Homo sapiens: one gene and its partners. The protein of the gene in region 1 interacts with the protein of each later gene in a biochemical or structural test. Each region holds a gene or a part of one and is shown on either strand. Other genes may lie near its edges.

The links.
Region 2: the proteins of HDAC6 (region 1) and TPPP form a complex in vitro, tested with the Homo sapiens proteins (2 studies listed by BioGRID).
Region 3: the proteins of HDAC6 (region 1) and PRKCA form a complex in vitro, tested with the Homo sapiens proteins (2 studies listed by BioGRID, with this or other methods).

What each region holds. Positions count from the first base shown.
Region 1 is NC_000023.11:48,812,044-48,819,066, forward strand, and holds part of HDAC6 (protein deacetylase HDAC6), read left to right. Parts: intron 1-2,396; coding exon 2,397-2,523; intron 2,524-2,631; coding exon 2,632-2,697; exon of another isoform or gene 2,698-2,790; coding exon 2,791-2,850; intron 2,851-2,918; coding exon 2,919-3,008; intron 3,009-3,340; coding exon 3,341-3,447; intron 3,448-3,531; coding exon 3,532-3,599; intron 3,600-3,840; coding exon 3,841-4,009; intron 4,010-4,097; coding exon 4,098-4,226; intron 4,227-4,421; coding exon 4,422-4,590; intron 4,591-5,282; coding exon 5,283-5,416; intron 5,417-5,997; coding exon 5,998-6,066; intron 6,067-6,176; coding exon 6,177-6,369; intron 6,370-7,023.
Region 2 is NC_000005.10:676,338-683,360, reverse strand, and holds part of TPPP (tubulin polymerization-promoting protein), read left to right. Parts: intron 1-3,418; exon of another isoform or gene 3,419-3,852; coding exon of another isoform or gene 3,853-4,049; intron 4,050-5,296; coding exon of another isoform or gene 5,297-5,300; coding exon 5,301-5,611; intron 5,612-6,744; exon of another isoform or gene 6,745-7,023.
Region 3 is NC_000017.11:66,732,605-66,739,627, reverse strand, and holds part of PRKCA (protein kinase C alpha type), read right to left. Parts: intron 6,941-7,023; coding exon 6,803-6,940; intron 4,140-6,802; coding exon 3,966-4,139; intron 865-3,965; coding exon 773-864; intron 1-772. UniProt on the Homo sapiens protein: Calcium-activated, phospholipid- and diacylglycerol (DAG)-dependent serine/threonine-protein kinase that is involved in positive and negative regulation of cell proliferation, apoptosis, differentiation, migration and adhesion, tumorigenesis, cardiac hypertrophy, angiogenesis, platelet function and inflammation, by directly phosphorylating targets such as RAF1, BCL2, CSPG4, TNNT2/CTNT, or activating signaling cascade involving MAPK1/3 (ERK1/2) and RAP1GAP.

The sequences.
Region 1 (7,023 bases):
TGAAAATTAACAATAATTATTTTTTTAATCTGCCAAGGGTCTGTCATTCAAAGAATTCTTTAATATCATTAATCATTCTTTTTGTTTGAATAAATGCATAGGAGGCTATAGCTGTGTGTTCTTTCATGGGTACACTATTGATTACACACACAGATGTGAAACACTGTGAATATATTCAGTGCATTCTTCCTTATTAACAAACGTGTGTAAACAAACAAACAAAAAGAACATGTCCATGCCCTTGGATCTCCCAGCTCCCCATCTCTCAGTCTCTGAACTCCAGCAGCAGGGAGACAAACTGGATAATCCTTAAAATACTGTTGTGAAGACAAGGAAAGCAGATGATCTAAAACTAAGTAGTTAAAAGAAACAAGTAACTTTGTTGTATTGGTGATTCAGTGAGTTGGCTCTTCAGAAGGGATTTTGTGTGCATTGACCTGGATCTGTACTGGATTTCTCCAGAAAGGAAACTTCAGCTTATCTTGGGTGCCCCCTTATCCTGCTCAGCATGAGACAGAGCACCCTGGGGCCCCTGGAATCTCAAAGTCTACTTTCTAGAAATTCATTGAAGTCTCTTATTCTCTGACATCCTTTCCACTCTCTCTTTCTGGGTTGCTGTTTGTTTACAATTTCTTTACTGTATTTTGAATGGGGTAGTAGGAGGTTGAGGAAGTAAACCTGTGCTATCAATCCACCATTTAACTTGAAGGTGGTTGAACTTATTTTGAATTTCCCTTCTGTTTTCTTTTTAAACTTAGCTTGAGTGCTAGTTCTGCTGTTTATTGACTTTGATGGCTCTCTTTTAGAGTCAGCTTTCTTCAGATCTTTTCTTTCTTCCTGTCTTCCCCAATGATATTTTTTTCTTTTCCTTTCTTTTTTTTTGAGACAGAGTCATGCTCTGTCGCCCAGGCTGGAGTGCAGTGGCCCGATCTCGGCTCACTGCAACCTCCGCCTCCTGGGTTCAAGCAATTCTCCTACCTCCACCTCCCAAGTAGCTAGGATTACAGGCACGCGCCACCACGCCCAGCAAATTTTTTGTATTTTTAGTAGAGACAGGGTTTCGCCATGTTGGCCATGCTGGTCTCGAACTTCTGGCCTCTAGTGATCCGCCCACCTTGGCCTCCCAAAGTGCTGGGATTACAGGTGTGAACCACTGCGCCCAGCCCTCTGGTGATAATTTTTATGTCCTACTGTGTTTCTCTTCCTCTAATGATTAACTTACTAAAAGTTTAGAACCAAGATTTATCTATCAATGTCAAAAATAAAACAATCATCCTCCACCTACTCAACACCAGAGCTTTTGCTTGTTTTTATTCCCCAATTCCAAGCTCTTTTCCCTCAATTTTAAGAATCTTTCTATATCACTTGCATTAAATTTCACAACTACATTATCAACCCATTAAAATGTGACTCTTAAGTTTGTCTAGATTCAATGCATACCACTATTTCTTGCATTTCCCTAAAAAAGCTGCCTTAGATCCTCTCTGGAACAAAGCAGGGGGTAAATGACCAGATAGAAGGATGGATGGATGATAGATTATTCATTTTGCTTTCCCCAGTCAGAATTAAGCCCTCCCATGGCCCCTTGCTGGGCTTTCTGTCAAAACACGTGCATCGCATCTTTTCAGTATCTGTTTTGCGTGTCGGTCATACTCACCCCTCTGAGTGCTCATTCTCTCGCCTATAAAATAGAAGAAGTAGTAGAGGTGGCCTGTAAGGCATTGGGGAGGAGGAACTGCCCTTTCACTGGCCTCATGACAGCCCCAGCCAGCACCCCCGCTCTAGTTCCACCCACAGAAGCAAGTCTCACCCCTACCCCCCAGGTCTCTCCACTTCCTGCTAGAGAATCACCCAGCTCCCCAGCCTGGCTTGAGGCTCTTTTCAGCCTTAGCTGGCTCCCCGCAGCTAAGAGCCCCATGCTCCATTTGGGCCTCCAGTGTCACAGGGTTTGACCTGCTGTTACTACTACCTTTGTCATAGGGGCAGGTAGTGGGCGGACATGATCTAGAGTACCCCACAGAGTCAGGAGCCCCCATGATCTGAGATAGACCCTAGAGCTGAGCCTGAAATTGGGTGGGCACTGAGGGGGCAGCGATGTTTGCTGAGGGAGAGGTTCTGGTGAGAGACTAAATGAATGAGCGAGTGAGGTAATGGATAAATAAAGATAAGAATGAAAAAATGGTAAGATGATTAAATTGGTGACTGAATGTAAGGGTAAATTAATGGAAGAATGGATTCATGGATTAAATAATTAATGGGGAAATTAATGAATGAGAGAATGAACGAGTGGTTGAATGGGGAAATGAGTGGTAGAGGAAACTGGCAACTGTTGGGTTGGGGGTGTCTATGGGGATTGACTTCTCCAACTCTCTTACCTCTTTTTCTTCTGCCCCCAGTGTCCTCTATTTCTCCATCCACCGCTACGAGCAGGGTAGGTTCTGGCCCCACCTGAAGGCCTCTAACTGGTCCACCACAGGTTTCGGCCAAGGCCAAGGATATACCATCAATGTGCCTTGGAACCAGGTCAGCATCTACCCACCTCTGCCCCCAAAGTGAGGCCCAGCCCCGCCCTTCTGTCAGCGGCTCGGGACAGGTGGCTGAACATCCCCCATCACACTCCTGTGTCTGCAGGTGGGGATGCGGGATGCTGACTACATTGCTGCTTTCCTGCACGTCCTGCTGCCAGTCGCCCTCGAGGTCCTGGGGATCTGGGGTGTGTTGGGAGGAGGAGTGGCCTTGAAGGTTAGGCTGTGAGGGTAGGTAGCCTCATGGAGTCTGTTCCCCCTTCAGTTCCAGCCTCAGCTGGTCCTGGTGGCTGCTGGATTTGATGCCCTGCAAGGGGACCCCAAGGTAAGGCAGGCTCCCTGGGGCGGCAGGTGGGTTGCATGGAGCCAGGCTGACCCTCCATGTCCCCCCAGGGTGAGATGGCCGCCACTCCGGCAGGGTTCGCCCAGCTAACCCACCTGCTCATGGGTCTGGCAGGAGGCAAGCTGATCCTGTCTCTGGAGGTGAGTGACTCACCTTCGTCCCTCAGCCTGTGGATCCTGGAGGGCTTAAGAACGAAGCTTTCAAGTCCAACAGGAGTTCCTGGCCCAGGAATTCACTTACTAGCTGGACAACCTTGCATAAGTCACTTCACTTCTTTGTGCCTCCGCTTTCCTTCTATAAAACGAGCATAATGTAATCACCTCATATCATTGTCCAGTGAATTCAGTGAGGCACCCTTCTAAGTTCCTTGTTGCTTGACATGTGGTATGCACTCTCTTATTATCATCATTATTATTATTCCCTGGTCATGTCTGGTCCTTTCCTGATCCCCCTTCACAACTCCTTGCCCCAGGGTGGCTACAACCTCCGCGCCCTGGCTGAAGGCGTCAGTGCTTCGCTCCACACCCTTCTGGGAGACCCTTGCCCCATGCTGGAGTCACCTGGTGCCCCCTGCCGGAGGTGAGCCCCGGTGGAGGAGGGGAAAGCGGGAGCCTCACTGCCCGCCCACATTCCTTGACATCATATTTTCTCCCTGCCCTGCAGTGCCCAGGCTTCAGTTTCCTGTGCTCTGGAAGCCCTTGAGCCCTTCTGGGAGGTTCTTGTGAGATCAAGTAGGAAGTGGGGTGTGGGCCTGGTGTGGGGTGGACGTGGGATGAGCCCTGGGGGAGACTGTCTTCAGACTTCCTCTGACTTTACTGGGCTGCCTTGGTGGGAGAGGGTCAGGCCCTCTCTCTCTCCCTGGGCCCTGGTTTCAGGCCTCCCACCCCTTTTTCTGTTTGGGTCACCTGAGTTCCAGAGTATGACGGGGATTCAGATTGAGAGGGTAGGACAAACGTGGCCTCCCCCTTTTAGCTGAGACCGTGGAGAGGGACAACATGGAGGAGGACAATGTAGAGGAGAGCGAGGAGGAAGGACCCTGGGAGCCCCCTGTGCTCCCAATCCTGACATGGCCAGTGCTACAGTCTCGCACAGGGCTGGTCTATGACCAAAATATGATGAATCACTGCAACTTGTGGGACAGGTAGGCATTTGGAGGGCTGGATGAGTAGGTGTTGGGGGTCCCTCCCCCTCAGGCACTAAGCCTCTACCTCTCGTTTCCCCACTGCTAGCCACCACCCTGAGGTACCCCAGCGCATCTTGCGGATCATGTGCCGTCTGGAGGAGCTGGGCCTTGCCGGGCGCTGCCTCACCCTGACACCGCGCCCTGCCACAGAGGCTGAGCTGCTCACCTGTCACAGGTCAGACCCCGGTGCCTGGGGTGGGTGGATTCCCAGGACTGTGGATGAGGTCTCAGGGGCTGGAACTTGGGTTTCCCCTCCTGGGGAGCTGCTGCAGGACTTGAGAGGGGCTGAAGTCCCTGTCTTAGGGGTGGGGACCAGGGAGGGGACAGACCCTCCTCACTGTCCTGCGGGTGCTCCTCTCTGTGCTTCCAGTGCTGAGTACGTGGGTCATCTCCGGGCCACAGAGAAAATGAAAACCCGGGAGCTGCACCGTGAGAGTTCCAACTTTGACTCCATCTATATCTGCCCCAGTACCTTCGCCTGTGCACAGCTTGCCACTGGCGCTGCCTGCCGCCTGGTGGAGGCTGTGCTCTCAGGAGAGGTGTGTCCTCTGTGGGCTGGGGAGAGGAGGACCTGGGGGGAATGGAAAAAGAGAGCCATCTGCTGTTTCTGGAGGCTCTGAGAGAGTCAAGCAGGGCCTGAGGAAAGGGGCCATGGGGAGGGGCACGGGAGGGGGTGGGCCTAGAGGCTGGGGGAATAATGGAAGGAACTGGAGAAAGGGAAGGGTGGCCAAGTGCAGTGGCTCACGTCTGTAATCCTAGCGCTTTGAGAAGCTGAGGTGAGCTCAGGAGGTCAAGGCTGCAGTAAGCCATGATTGCACCACTGCACTCTAGCCTGGGCAACAGAGTGAGACCCTGTGTCAAAAAAAAAAAAAGGTCCGGGCGTGATGGCTCACACCTGTAATCCCAGCACTTTGGGAGGCCGAGGTGGGCAGATCACGAGGTCAGGAGATCGAGACCATCCTGGATAACATGGTGAAACCCCGTCTCTACTAAGAAACATACAAAAAATTAGCCGGGCGTGGCAGCAAGCGCCTGTAGTCCTAGCTACTCAGGAGGCTGAGGCAGGAGAATGGCGGGAACCTGGCAGGCGGCGCTTGCAGTGAGCCGAGATGGCGCCACTGCATTCCAGCCTGGGCGACAGAGCGAGACTCCGTCTCAAAAAAAAAAAAAAAAAAGGAAGAAAGGAAGGTGAGGGCAGGCTGTCCGATCTTAGCACCCTGCTGCTTCCCAGGTTCTGAATGGTGCTGCTGTGGTGCGTCCCCCAGGACACCACGCAGAGCAGGATGCAGCTTGCGGTTTTTGCTTTTTCAACTCTGTGGCTGTGGCTGCTCGCCATGCCCAGACTATCAGTGGGCATGCCCTACGGTAAGGACTCCCTGGGGACCCCCCAAATCCTGATCCTTGTGGGGACCTGGATGCTCCCCCCAGCCCATTGTTTACTCATGCCCCATGGTCCAGCTCCCAGGACTTCCTTCCCCAGAAAGAAGTAAGGGTGCAGTCCTTACCCAGAGAAGGACCGAGGATGGAGCCTCTCAGTGCTTATTTAGATAGGACCCCCAGATCATGTTACCTGGGCACTTACAAAACAGGATCCAGGGTCCCACCCCAGCATTTCTGGCCTATAGCAGCTGCCTCGACAGAACCCAGGTCTAGGCTCCTGATGCATACTCCAGAAGACCCACGAACCAGCCCCCAGCATTAGCTGCCCAAGGCCCAGGGTCCAGTTCCCTAGCAATGACCCAGAAGAGCCCAGGGCCCAGCCCCGAGCACTTGCTCAGGCCTACCGGGCAGCCCTTGGGAACCAGGATCAGACTTTTCTCCTTAACTGATAGGACCCAGGGTCCTGCCACTCAGCACTAAATGCCCCTGCAGACCCCAGGGGTCTAGCCCAGCCCTCTTCCAGGGCGTGAGTATCGTCGGTTACTGAGGTGCTGTCTCCTCCCCAGGATCCTGATTGTGGATTGGGATGTCCACCACGGTAATGGAACTCAGCACATGTTTGAGGATGACCCCAGGTAAGGGCTGCAGTCAGGGGCCGCAGTGTGATCAGGGAGGCGGGTGAGCACCTCAGGGGTACTGGAGCCCCTAACCAGCCATGGTCCGCTTCCCACCCCCTCCCTGGCAGTGTGCTATATGTGTCCCTGCACCGCTATGATCATGGCACCTTCTTCCCCATGGGGGATGAGGGTGCCAGCAGCCAGATCGGCCGGGCTGCGGGCACAGGCTTCACCGTCAACGTGGCATGGAACGGGCCCCGCATGGGTGATGCTGACTACCTAGCTGCCTGGCATCGCCTGGTGCTTCCCATTGCCTACGAGGTACAGCTCAGGATAGATCGCAGGACGTATGTGACACGCCTGTGCAGGTGGCAGCCTGGACCTGCCTCCTTGGCATGTGTGTGTGTGACTACCATGTGGCTGATGATATGAGACAGCGCATGGGTGTTTAATGAGGCTACCAGGGCAGTTGGTGGCTGTGATCACCTTGTGTATTTGTGCACAGATGGCTGTACATGACTGCCTTCTCTGTGTGACACTGTGTGAGTGACTGTCTTGGCTGTGTGTGTGAGGGCCTTCTGACTATGCACCAATGGCCCGTGTCCTGGCTGGATCTGTGTTGTATGTGCGTGCCATCACAAGTGCTTGAGTATGTGCGTGTGCGACTCTGTGCAGGCAGGTATTTCTCACCTTTTCTCTGTGTGATGGGTGTGATACTGTATGTCACTAAATGCAACCATCTCTGTGACAGCCTGTGTGGGACCTTCTGGATGTGGAAGGCTGTGTGTGACAGCAGTCACTGTCTGGCTGTCTGCCCTGGCTGTTTGTGTGTATGTCTCTGACTGGGAGGTAGCTGCCTTCCCTCTGTGTGAGCTAGGAGGCTGGTGGCTTGTGTATGGCTGACTCTGGGAGGGAGGGAAAGGGTGTGAGCACCGCTCTGTCACCCTGGGCGCCGGTGTGCATCTTTGGATCTGC
Region 2 (7,023 bases), on another chromosome or scaffold:
CTGGTCACTTCCCAAGGAATGCTTGCCCTCGGGTTCTGGTGGAATCCAGTCGGCTGCCATCAGAGTGTCTTTCTCCGCAGAGACAGGTTCTCCCTCGGGCTGTGCCTGCATGAGGCCATCGGGTGCGAGGGAGATGGGGAGGGGGCTGCACCCCTTCAAGGATGAGGAGACTGAGGCACAAGCAGCTGTCCTACCATGGGCACTTGCCTGCGAGCGAGCTCTGGGGGTCAGCGGGTGCAGCTGGAGAAGCTGCTGGTGGCTTCTCTAGGGCAGGTGGAGCTGTCAGAGGTCACACCCTGGCCTGGTCCAGCCCAGCACAACCCAGGGGGCCTGCAGGACACTTGTGACCAGGACAGAGGTTCTCAGGGAGGCCAGAGCCTGAGCAGGGCCGAGGGCTGGCTCTGAGGTCTCAGGCCCCAGGGAGGGGTGATGAGCTGAGGGGTGGTAGCTCCCACTGACTCCATGGCTCCTGCCTCCAGCTTTGACCCAGCACTGCTGATGATGTGAGCACAGCCTGTCCACCAGCCTCCTCTGCCAGCAAGGCTCAGCCACCCCACAGCCATCCACATGGAGAGCAGTCGTGTAGGCTCTGTCGGCGCCACCCCCGCGTGGGCGTGGGCAGTGAACAAGGGAGCACCGAGGCTGCTGCTACCTTTAAAACAGCAGCTGGCCCTAGTGAGAGAGACCCCAGGCCCTAGTTACAGGCTCCAGGCCCAAGGGGCAGACCCCTGGCGCTAGTGACAGACCCCAGGTCCTAGTAACAGGCTCCAGGCCCAAGGGGCAGACCCCTGGCCCTAGTGACAGACCCCAGGTCCTAGTAATAGGCTCCAGGCCCAAGGGACAGGTCCTGGCCCTAGTGACTGACAGGCCCCTGGCCATAGTGACAGACCCCAGGCCCTAGTAACAGGCTCCAGGCCCAAGGGGCAGACCCCTGGCCCTAGTGACAGACCCCAGGTCCTAGTAACAGGCTCCAGGCCCAAGGGGCAGACCCCAGGCCCTAGTAACAGGCTCCAGGCCCAAGGGACAGGCCCCGGCCCTAGTGACTGACAGGCCCCTGGTCCTAGTGAGAACCCCCTGGCCCAAGTGCGAGACCCCTGTTCCTAGTGACAGAGCCCAGTCAGTCCTAGTGCCTGGCCCCGCTTACTGATGCCACATGGACACCCGGGTTTCCAGCCCCTGGACAGCTCTGTGATCAGAGGCTGGGGCTGCTGTTTCCCCAGCCCTGTCAATTCTGTTCTGGCAGGTTTTCTGTAAGTTTGGCTTTGGGCAGTCCAGTGTCCAGTCTGAAGGCGTTTCCCAGGAGATTCATTCTGACAAATGGGGCCCAGGTGATTTTCCGTGGGGCCTCTTGGGAACAGGGACAGCCTGTGGGGTTGGGGCCAAGGTGGCCTGCGGTGTCTGGGACGAAGCCCCGCCTAGGTGGCCGAGTCCTTGGAGCTGGTGACACACCTGGGACAGGCATTCCCTGGCCTGCGAGGAGGCTTCGTTCCCTAGGACAGCCACCCTCTGGGGTCTGCCTTTGCCTGCCCCACTCTGAGGTCTGTGGTGCCACCTCTGCCCTCATCTTCTGTCCTTTCCAAGCCTTTTTTGAAGATGCCAGTTGGACAACACAGTCTTGCCCACACCCGTGGGTGAGCCCGTAGGTGCCATCCTCCTGACTCCCTGGGGAGGCGCTGGGGGTGGGTGGGAGTGGGGTGGGCTCAGCCTCCAAGCAGGTCCTGGCCAGGCCCCACTTGTGGTCCCATAGGGTCTGGCCAGGGAAGGGGCATGTGCTGTGAGCAGACACCTGGGTCAGGTCAGGGCTTGGCACGTCCCTCCTACCAGGGAGGTGCCGGCCAGTGGGAGAGGGTGCAGGTGCACATCTGGATGCAAGACACAGGCCTGGGAGTACAGGCACAACTGGGATGGCGGGCACAGGCCTGGGAGTGCTGGGCACATGTGGGATGGTGGGCACAGGCCTGGGAGTGCAGGGTGACCCCCTGGGGGCTCAGGGCACACGCGTGGAGATGGTGGGTACACGCCTGGGAGCTTGTCCTTTGACCCCAGGTGAGCAGTTTGTCTTCCTGGAGTCTCTTCTGCTACACAACCTTCTTTTCCCTCACGGTGAAAGAGCAGAGCCTCTGGGGGAAATGGTGTGAGGGTCTGCACCCAGGGCTCAGGTGTGCTGTGCCCAGAAACTGGGAAAGTGGAGGACACCTGGCCTCTGCCCATCCAAGGAGAAGCAGCTGGCACAGCAGCATGCCATGCTCGGTGGAGAGCGCCAAGGGAGAGGCGCCCACCCAGGCTCGTTGTCCGTCTGACACCTCCATGTTCTCTCAAAATTAAATGTATTCTTATTACCGTCATTGTGGAAACAGCACGTGGGTCTAATGAAGCGATCCAGACAGTGTGGCTCCCATCTCCTCCACTCCTGCTCCGTGTCTGTGGCCCGTGTCCTGCTCCTCCAGACCCAGCAGCAGCCTGGCTGACTTCCCACAGCGGCACGTCGTGCCTAATTCATTGTCATTTTTAGTTTAAAAACCTTTTAAAAAATATTTTGTTAAGCTAATGCATGTTTGAGGTAAAACAAAACTACAAGAACCTAGAACAGTGAAGCTCAGATGGGCTCTGAGGCGAGTCCCCACGTGAGACCCCTCAGCACACACCCCACGCAGAGGCGGGCTTTGGAAGCATTTCTGGCAGCTGGCGTCTGAGGTCGGCACTGCTCCACCCCTTGGTGCAGAAAGGCTGGGGCTGAGTTGGGACGGGTTCCACTTTTCCCTCCGGAACTGCCTGGGCCTGGTTCTCAGCCCTCCCAAGCGCCCGTGGACTCACTCCCGTGTGACGGCCATGGGTTCCTGCATCTACTACTTCTTCTCGGCTGTTGACGGCTGTCACCCTCGTCTTCCTGGGAAGCCCAGTCACCAAGCACCTCCGCAGGGGGTGTGGCCACGTCTCTGAGGTCACACCCACTGCAGGTGGCCTTGCTCCCCTCAGCCTGAGTGGGACAGTGGACGTGGGTATCCAAGTCCCAGCCTGAAGCATTTTTCCTCAGAACGTTTGAAGGCAGTGTCTGTCTTCAGTAGATCCGGCGATGGCCTGACCCCTGTTCCTTTCTGCCCTCTCCCCCACGGCCCCCACCGTGCTCTCATGCGTGCCATCTCATGCTGCTTGCTGTGCTGAGAGGGGCTGAGCCTAGCACAGGTGGTGCCTGCCCAGCAGGGGCGCAGGGGCCGCGGGCCGGACCGTTCTCACGCGTCGTGACTCCCACCCGTCCGCATCTCTGCTCACGCACATTCTCTTCCGCCAGGTCTGAAATCGCCTGCTGGCCTCCCTCTGACCTGCCTCAGTTTCTCCTCTTCACTCCTCGCTGCCTGATGTGTCATTGCTTATTTGTTTATCACTTGTCCCAACTGAAGGCCTCATGAGGGCAGGACGTTTTATGTCCCGCTCAGCCCTCCAAGGCCAACCTCCAAGCTTATCAAAACCTCATGCAAAGCACGTGCTGATGGGCTGGGAAGTCCTGCGTGAGCCCTGAAGGTGGCTCTGAGGGGCTTCCCTCATCCCTTTGCTCCCAGGCGGGCCCCACGGGGTGCAGGTTCTCAGATGACTCTCTGAGGTGTGTGAATAAGGGTCTCTGTTCAGGCGCGTCCCCACAGGAGATGAGACCACAGAACGCAGCCCTGAGTTTGAAGCATCCCAGAAGGTTCTTTCTCTCTGACCCGCACACCCACCACTGTTCTGGGTGCTCACAAAACCCACCATTGCTTCTGGTAATTTCTCAGCTGCTCCTCCTGTCCAGCGACCCCTGCTGCAGAGGCCCAGGGGAAACACAGACCAGGCCTGTGAGAAGCTCCTGTTTCAGACAAAGAAATGGTGTCAGCGATAAAACTGGAAACTGTTCCCAGCTCGACACCTGACCTGGCCCTTCCACCCCCAGGATCCTGCCCCCAGGCGGCCCTTCCACCCCCAGGATCCTGCCCCCACGCGGCCCAGCCCCCACCAGGATCCTGCCCCTGCATCCTCCGCTGGGTTGGCATCTGCATTTTTGGTGCCTTCCAGGGAAAGGGGTGAGTGGGTGGGGCCTGAGGCCCTTAAGGTCCTCAGTGGAGGGAGTGCCCCTGGATTTTTTTCTGGCTGTTTTGGGGGAATTTGTGGGATCTCAGGGTCAGCAGCGGCCACACTCAGGACCCCACGATTACAGAGCCACACTTTGGCCATGACTGGCGCTGAGAACTCCAGATCTGAGAGGGCTTCGTGAGTCCCAGGGTTGGGACACCTACCTGTGTCCTCGGCACGGACCCTCCCACCGGCTCTTGTGTCTGTGGGCAGAGGCCATGTTCAGCTCTCAGTGCAGTGCTGACGGCCCACCTGGTGTCCAGGCCCCTTTGGGAAGCAGCTTTCATGCCCTGAGTCCAGCACCTCAGCCTTGAGTCCTTCAGGGCCTGACTGGGTCTTACCGAAGCCCATGCATGGTAGGGAGGTGGCCTCGGCAGCCCTGCCCTGTGGCGTAGCCCTGCGTCCCCAAGCCCTGCCTGGGTGGCACCCCTCAGTCTTCTCAACCCCATGGCCCAGCCGCCTACTCTGGGGGCGGGCGCCTTGCAAAGTCCAGAGGGCGTCCCTGCGCCCTGACACCGGTGCCCCCACCACTGCCTCAGCCCTGCACACTGGCAGTCCCCTCCCCTGGCCGGGGCCAGGCCCAGGGCTCCTGGGAAGAGCATCCTGAGGCGCCCCCAGGGCCACCACGCACCCTCCCCAGCCTAAAGCTCCATCTAAGGTCAGAGGCTCTGCAGTGGGGAGGGAGCGGCTGTCGCACGACTGCTGTGGACCCTCCCAGAGGAAGGCAGCACGTCACAGACCCTGGGGAGTGCGTGATCCCGAGGTGTCCTCCAGAGCTGCAGAGCGGGCGTCCACAGGAGGGACAGTGGAACTGCGGCGGGGAGGGGACCCGGAATAGGCTCTGATGCTGCCAGTCACACACTGAGCCTCCTAGGCCTGGAGCCCCTGGCACCCAGCTCAGCTCCCACCCTGGGCTCTGCGTGCTGCTGGCTTTATTTGGCTTAGGGGGTCCTTGGCCCAATGATGGCAGTGGGCAAGGCCTCGCTTGGCTCCACTCTGCCCGGGGCTGGACATGCGTGCCTGCGGGGCAGCTGGCTCCAAGGGTCTGAGGGGCCTCACGCCCAGCCCCAGGAGGGCCTGCCCATCTCAGCCCTCGCCACGTCCTGGTGCTCATTGGTACGGCGGGGTTTCCTGGGCTGCACCCGGCTCAGCTGGGACATGGCCCGGGTGACACCTTTCTCCTCTCCTTCCTCCATAGCAACATGGCTGACAAGGCCAAGCCTGCCAAAGCTGCCAACAGGACGCCCCCCAAGTCCCCGGGGGACCCCTCGAAGGACCGGGCAGCCAAGAGGCTGTCGCTGGAATCGGAGGGTGCTGGTGAGGGGGCAGCCGCATCCCCTGAGCTCAGTGCCCTGGAGGAGGCCTTCCGGCGCTTTGCCGTGCACGGGGACGCCAGGGCCACCGGGAGGGAGATGCACGGCAAGAACTGGTCGAAGCTGTGCAAGGACTGCCAGGTGATCGACGGCAGGAACGTGACCGTCACTGACGTGGACATCGTCTTCAGCAAGATCAAGTGAGTGCGCTGGGCTCACGGGCCGAGGGACCTGACTTACGGGGGTCTGCGGCCCTGAGCCCCTGGGTGGGTTCTGTGGGGAGCGGGCCATGGGGAGTGGAGGGGGTTGTGCTTCAAGACCCCGCCCTTCTCAGAAGCAGCCCTGACATGGGAGCCTGAACGTGCCATCTGGGCCCCCAGGGAGCAGGGGTCCGGGCATTGCCGGACTTCTCGGTGCCGAGGCCTGAGTGGCAGCCCTGGCTCCTCTCAGCCCCGTGGGTGTGTAGGGTTTCGGCATGGGAGGTGGCCTATGAGGGGATGTCTGGCCTCAGAGCAGACTCGGGGTGAATGCTGCTCCCCGGAGTCAGGGAGCTGTGACTGGGATCACTGGGCTTCCCCAGGAGTGGGGGCAGTGGCTGCCTGGAGCCTGGAGGGGCAGGTGGCTGCTGGCGGGCAGAGCTCCTGACCCTCTGTGGGCTGGCTCAGCGGCTGAGTCTCAGAGGTTGGATGCTTGTGTCCCCATGCATGGAGCTGGCCATTCGGGTGTCCCCCAGCCCCTCCCAAAGCCTTTGTGCTGCTGTATTTCTGCCCCAGGATTCCCACGGGCGGCAAAATGGCAAAGGGCACCAAGGAGGCGGCTCCGGCCACCACCTTGAAACCGCATCGTGCCGTTTGCTTTTTCTGCGTCGTGTGCACGTGTGCGCGTTTCTGTGTGCACGTGTGTGCGTTTCCGCGTCGTGTGTGCACGTGTGCGCGTTTCTGCGTGTGCACGTGTGCGCGTTTCTGCGTCGTGTGTGCGTTTCTGTGTGCACGTGTGCGCGTTTCTGCGTCGTGTGCGCGCGTGCGTTTCTGCGTCGTGTATGCGCGCGTGCGCGTTTCTGCGTCGTGTGTGCATGTTTCTGCGTCGTGTGTGCGCGTTTCTGTGTCGTGTGTGCACGTGTGCGCATGTGTGCATGTGTTTCTGCATGTGCACGTGCGTTTCTGTGTCATGTGTGCACACGTCTGTTGCCGTGTCACGCATTGTCTGTTTTCTCCTGGATGAATGCTGGGAAGCACACTGAGGCACCCTCACACGCCCCAGCACATTTCACCTCATGTCCCGACACCCCACCATGATCGCACCCGAGAAAAGCAGCGGTTCTCCCTGAGCCCCGTCCTGTCCGCCTGTGTGGCAATGGCTTTATTTCGGTGGTTTGCACCTGCGTCCTCCTGTGGCCGATGTATTTCATTCCTACATTGCCGCAAACTCATCACCTCTTTCATCTCAGAGCTCCTGCACCTTCCCCCTCTGCGGCCTTGGCTTTGCAAGGGGCCGGGCCGTGGGTCAGATGCCCCTGTGTGGAAGGCTGTGGGGCCCACCTCTGCGGCGCCAGCGCCCCATCTACCAGCTCTGGGTGGGCGCCGTGACCTTTGCAGCTGTTCCGTCTCTGCTG
Region 3 (7,023 bases), on another chromosome or scaffold:
GCACTTCCCTCTCCCCGATTTTTAGGGGCTTACGTGTTATCCTGGTATCCTGCGCAAGTCTCTAAAGTTACAGCAACGCACTATTAATTGTTAGGTGACTTCTCCACCTCCAGGGTGGAGTGTAAACTCCCTCTGGAAAGGGAGCACCTCGTTCCTTTCGCAACCCCAGTGCCTGGTGCAGAGCAGGTGTGTGATAACCATTTGTTCAACAGATAAGAATAACTCCATCAACAAGGGTGGACCTGGGTGATGATGGGATATGGCAACATCTCCAGTTTATTGGAAATACTGGAAATAGAATAAACTGCTCCTTAGGAACCATCTTAGATGGATCCTACCAGTATATCTGCCCTCCGCCTCCCATGTTTAGGTTTATAACATTCAACCTAAAACTGGGCAGAATCCCACTTTCCCATTTCACCCAGCAGAAGTTCCCAGTTGGGGCTGGGCATGGTGGCTCACTCACGCCTGTAATCCCCGCACTTTGGGAGGCCGAGGTGGGCAGACAGCTTGAGCTCAGGAGTTCGGGACCAGCCTGGGCAAGATGGTGAAACCCCATCTCTACCAAAAACAGAAAATTAGCCAGGCATGGTGGTGTGTGCCTGTAGTCCCAGCTACTCAGGAGGCTGAGGTGGGAGAATCACCCGAGCCTGGGAGGCAAAGCCTGAGTGACAGAGTGAGACCCCCAATCTCAAGCGGGGGGGAAAAAAGGAAGTTTCCAGTTGGTAGGACTTGGTTGTTCAAATTAAAGGACTTAAAAAATAATACTCACACTGCTTGTGGTTCCTTAAATTTTCCTACTTGCTGAATGTGGTACATGAGGTCCCCACCGTTGACATATTCCATGACGAAGTACAGCCGATCCTGCAGACCAAGGTTCAACACATGAGCAGGGCTCCTCCCCAGCCAAGTGGCTTCCTTTGCTCTTCACAGGTTGTGTTTTGCTTTCTCATTAGTTAAATGGGGACTGCATGGGCAGATGTGCTCAGTTTAGAGCTCTTTCACATTTTTTTCCAAAGAAAGAATAAGTAATAAACCCTACTGCATGAGGGCCTTGGGAAGTATAAAGTCATTACATAACCCTGAAATAATGGCTCTCCATCAACGTGCCTTCCTGTTACATATGCTATTATAGTAACGGCCTTGAACATTCTTCCCTATCTTCCTATACATATAATAAATTTCTAAGTAAGGGATGGTGTGAGGAATCCACATAAGGCAATTATTTCATTTTAACTAGTGCTTCTCCATGGTCCAAATGTTTAAAGGCTGGTTTGCAGTGTCTGGGAGGCGTGCCATACTAATGTAGTATCGTGTTTAAATGGATACTCCTGAAAACACATCTCTCAGGCTTAGGATTACACATGCTCAATATATTTACTGGACATGGGACAGGGGACTCTAGATGGAGATGCTAATCAAATGTTCTTTTGCATCTGTAATATGCCCAAACACTGTTTTTCTATTTTCTCTGTCACTGGTAGGCTAAGTGTTGGCCCCATGATGGGCATGTATCATAGACCCAAATAAATCTGCATATTCCTGAGGACATTATGCTGGGACAGATAGGAAGATGGAGGGGTTTAACAGTGAAATAATGACCTCTGCTCTCTGCTAGAAAACATCCCCATTTCACAGAGGATATTAAACATTAAAGTGCTGCACAGGGAGAAAAAAATGATGAAGCTGGTGCTAATAGCCAGGAAGCAACCCTGGGAGCCCCAGTCTCTAGCTTTCCTGTTATGAACTTTAATTTCATCTTCATTTCTTTGTTTTGTAGCTTTCCAGAGCTTAATCAGGGTAACCAGGGTTACAGGCTCTGGGCTGGGATTCAGAGCTGTGGTTGTCTCTTCCGAGCATGCTGCTCTCATCTCTCCCTGGCGTGACTTGATTCAGAGTCAGTGGGAACGGCTGGGAGCAGGAAGCTCAACGTGCCGCCAGCGCTAGGCTGACACGTAGTGGCCGGCGCCTGACTCCGCGGCCACTGCTACACACCCAGAGGCTCCGGGTGGCTGCAAAGCCATTTTGAGATTCTAAAACACAAAAGCACTGAGAGGTTCCTCCCAAGAGTTTTCAAAGAGGCATAAGACAGAAAGTCAATCTCTGATCAATGGGCAGTTGAAAATAGTAATAATCGCATCAATTACAGCTACTGATTATGGAGTCATATTTTAAATGGGCAGCCTCTGAGGAGTGGAAAGACCAGCTTTGGCAACGTCTCACTATGGTGGCATCTAAACATCTATGTTTCTTTTTTTTCTTTTTAAGACAGAGTCTTGCTCTGTTGCCCAGGCTGGAGTGCAGTGGCGCCATCTCGGCTCACTGCAAGCTCCACCTCCCGGGTTCACGCCATTCTCCTGCCTCAGCCTCCCGAGTAGCTGGGACTACAGGCGCCCGCCACCACGCCCGGCTAATTTTTTTTTTTTTTTTTGTATATTTAGTAGAGACGGGGTTTCACCGTGTTAGCCAGGATGGTCTCGATCTCCTGATCTCGTGATCTGCCCGCCTTGGCCTCCCACAGTGCTGGGATTACAGGCGTGAGCCACCGCGCCCGGCCATGTCTGTTTCTTGTAGGCCACTTGCAAGCCCTGCAACGGACTGATTAGTGCTTTGGAATGTCCTTTTTTGTCCTCTGTTTAGTTTTACTTTACGACAGAGCTCAGCAAACTTTTTCCACAAAGGGCCAGACAGTATGTATTAATATTTTAGGCTGTGAGTGTCTCTTGCAGCAACTCAACTCTGCCTTCATGGTGCAAAAGCAGCTGTAGATGACAGGTACACGAAGGAGTGTGGTGATGTCCCAAAACAGCTGTTTATGGATGCTGAAATTTAAAATTTGACCTAATTTTCACGTGTCACGATATATGACTCTTTGGATTTCCTTGTTGTGACCTTTCCTAAACTCACAAGCCATAGAGAATAGGCCACAGTTTGCCAGTCCCTGTTGTGTGGCATTGAACAAGAACATGCTCTTTTACAAAATCAAGTCTCCTTATGCTCCAATGCCATGTTTGGCAGTGGAACCAGTGGTCTTAAAAAGCCAAGACTGTGGCCAGGTGCGGTGGCTCATGCCTGTAATCCCAGCACTTTGGGAGGCCGAGGCGGGTGGATCACCTGAGGTCAGAAGTTCAAGACCGGCCTGGCCAACATGGTGAAACCCCATCTCTACTAAAAATACAAAAATTAGCCGGGCGTGGTGGCAGCGGCCTGTAATCCCAGCTACTCGAGAGGCTGAGGCAGGAGAATCCCTTGAGCCTGGGAGGTGGAGGTTGCATTGAGCAGAGATCGCACCATTGCACTCCAGCCTGGGGAAGAGAGAGTGACTCCGTCTCAAAAAAAAAAAGCCAAGACTGTGAGTTTTTTTGTTTGTTTGTTTTTGTATCCCAAAGTCTGAGCACAGTACCAGGCATGAAGAAAACCTTTCATGGAAATGTTTGCTGAATTAAGGCCAGGCACAGTGGCTCACACCTGTAGTCCCAGCACTTTAGGAGGCCAACGTAGGGGGATCGTTTGAGCTCAGGAGTTTAAGACCAGCCTGGGAAACATGGTGAAACCCCCGTCTCTACTAAAAATACAAAAATTAGCTGAGTGTGGTGGGGTACATCTGTGGTCTCAACTACTTGAGACTGCAGTGGGCCGTGACTGTGCCACTGCACTCTAGCCTGGGCGAGAGAGTGAGATCCTGTCTCAAAAAAAAAAAAAAAAAAGAAAGAAAGAAAGAAAAAGAAAAAGAAATGTTTGCCGAATTAAATGGCATGAATGCCAAGCAGAGGACATCACAGAGAAGGCATGCCCCAAATCTACCAGTGAGAGAGGTGGGAGGTGGTCCCCAGTCACCTCTGCTTGACATCACAACACACCTTTCTCCAGCCTTCTCCAAAGGAACAAGGATGCTAAGAAGCTTTGGGCTGAGGCGTAGCTCTGAGAGCTGGGTACTGCATCGCAGGGATTCCCAGGGTCCTTACCACTGTCTGGAAGCAGGAGTGCAGCTGCGTCAAGAACGGGGGTTTGTCAAGCAGGGCCAAGACTCGCTTTTCTACCATGGTGCACTCCACGTCATCATCCTGAATCACCACATCCTTCTTCAGGATTTTGATTGCATACAGTTCTTCTGTGCCCTTCCTGTCGGCAAGCATCACCTGAGAACACGTCAAGAACAACCTGAACACTTGTAAGCACATATCTTGGGGGGCAGAGGGAAGGAACCAGGCCAGGTGACGGCTCAGTGACAGTTTGTGCACCTTTGTCAATGTGGAACATAAAAATATTAAACTTTATGTGCAAATTTGTAAATTCTACACATCACTACAAATTCAGTCCCTCCAGCATTTGCAAAACTTCAATGCTGCCAAGATTTGTAAATGGTATAGGCCACTGCCACATAATGGCACTATTTTGGCTGCTAAAATGAATACTCAACATTCTCTATCAGGATTAGTCTGGAATAATGCACATTTTTCAGGAGTATCCTTAGAGTGAAAGCTGACTGACATTTATAATCTCTCAAGTCAAGAACCTAGACTTGAAATCAGTTCCTGCGTCTATGAAATGTGGGGCCACAGAAACCGAATGGAGATACAGGCAAATTGCTGAAGACCCCATGTCAGTATCTCTTAATGATTGTATTTGCTTACTACAAGTGAACATTTAATTTTTAGTTGTGAAAACTATTCATCAACCAGCATTTCTGAGCATCCCTTCTGTTCTGAACACTGAGAAATAGTAACAACACAGTGAACCCACTATAGCTTTTTGGATGCAGTTGCTTTTAAGGAAGTAGAAACCAGGTGAGGACTGTGCACTCTGATCTGAGAGACCAAATAAATGCCTCTTTAGCGACTAAGATGGACCCTAATGTCGCAGGCATTTGAACCAGAGTGACTCCATCTTGAATAAGGGATGGGAAAAATAAGGCTGAGATCTGCTGGGCCGCATTCCCAGGAGGTCAGGCATTCTTAGTCGCAGGATGAGATAGGAGGTCAGCAGGGCTAGTATCACAAGACACAGGTCAGAAAGACCCTGCTGATAAAACAGGATACAGTAAAGAAGCCAGCCAAAACGCACCAAATCCAAGATGGCGATGAGAATAACCTCTGGCTACCCTCATTGCTCATTATATGCATTATTAGCATGTGAAAAGACACTCCCACCAGCACCCCAACAGTTTACAAATGCCATGGCAATGCCCAGAAGTTACCTTATATAGTCTAAAAGATGGAGGAAGCCTCAGTTCTGGGAATTGCCCACCCCTTTCCCAGAAAACTCATGAATAATAAAACCCTTGTTTAGCATACGATCAAGAAATACCTCTAAGTATACTCAGTCAAGCAGCCCATGCTGCTGCTCTGCCTATGGAGTAGCTGTTCTTTCATTTCTTTACTTCTCTAACAAACTGACTTTCACTTTATTCTGTGGACTCGCTCTGAATTCTTTCTTGCTTGAGGTCCAAGAACCCTCCTCTTGGGGTCTGGATCAGGACCCCTTTCTGGTAACATTAAAGTTAAGGAAATAGTTATCTATGGGTTGAGGGTTCAGGGCCCAGCTGGCATGGCAAATTTCTAAATCCCTACAGCTACAAGATAAACCACTCTCGCTAAACTCCCTAGCAGTAGGAGCTATCAGGCCCCTCCTAACTTTGATTGACAACTCAGATCACTATGACTTGGACTGGACAGAGAACTGGCCTTACAAACATTCTTTTCTGTGATGCAACTGCAGACCTGAAGCCAGTTTCAGCAGCTTGCAGAGCCTGCACACAAACTGTTTTTGGGTCCTGTGGTTCACCTTTTGATCTAAAGAGCCAACTTCCACCTTTTTTTATTTATTTACTTTTTTTGAGACGGAGTCTCCCTCTGTTGCCCAGGCTGGAGTGCAGTGGCATGATCTTGGCTTACTGCAACCTCCACCTCCCAGGTTCCAGCGATTCTCCTGCCTCAGCTTCCCGAGTAGCTGGGATCACAGGTGCACACCACCACACCCAGCTAATTTTTGTATTTTTAGTAGAGATGGGGTTTCACCATTTTTGCCAGGCTGGTCTCAAACTCCTGACCTCAAGTGGTCCACCTGCCTTGGCCTCCCAAAGTACTGGGATTACAGGCATGAGCCACCATGCCTAGGCAAATTCCACCTCATTTTAATGCTAAGTCCCCACCCCAAAGTGAACATAAGATGCATGTTACATATATGTTCATCCATTGTGCCTGTGCTAGGCTTCCCTCACAGATAAGTCAAGCTTTCCCCCCAAACCTGTTGAATATGGATGACTCTACTGTGTAACATGGACCCTGTGAGGCATAAAACCCAACCTGCCCTTTCTCTCCTCAAAGAGAGGGCACCTTCATTTCACACCATAGACTTTCTTTTATGGGTTTGCAAACTGATACCACCAATAAACCTCTCCTTTCTACCATTTAGCCATCCTGGTGGTCTTCTGGATGACTGTACAAATCACAGGGAAATCTTTTTTTTTTTTTTTTTTTGAGACGGAGTCTCACTGTCTCCCAGGCTGGAGTGCAGTGGTGCGATCTCGGCTCACTGTAAGCTCCGCCTCCCAGGTTCACGCCATTCTCCTGCCTCAGCCTCCCAAGTAGCTGGGACTACAGGCGCCCACCACCATGCCCAGCTAATTTTTTGTATTTTTAGTAGAGATGGGGCTTCACCGTGTTAGCCAGGATGGTCTTGATCTCCTGACCTTGAATCACAGGGAAATCTAATGTGCTATTCTGCAAACTACGAGGAGAACAAAACTGATTCGACATTCTCTGCAGAAGCCCCTGCAATTTGCAGACGACTGTCCTCTTACCTTTCCAAAACTCCCCTTTCCCAACACCATGAGGAAATTGAAGTCCGTGAGTTTCACTCGGTCAAGGTTGTTGGAAGGTTGTTTCCTGTCTTCAGAGGGACTGATGACTTTGTTGCCAGCAGGGCCAAGTTTGGCTTTCTAAATAACAAGCACAAATGGGAAACACGTGGGTCATTTTTCTGGGGAAAGAGTGACAGAAACCACCGTGTTGTAACTGAGTT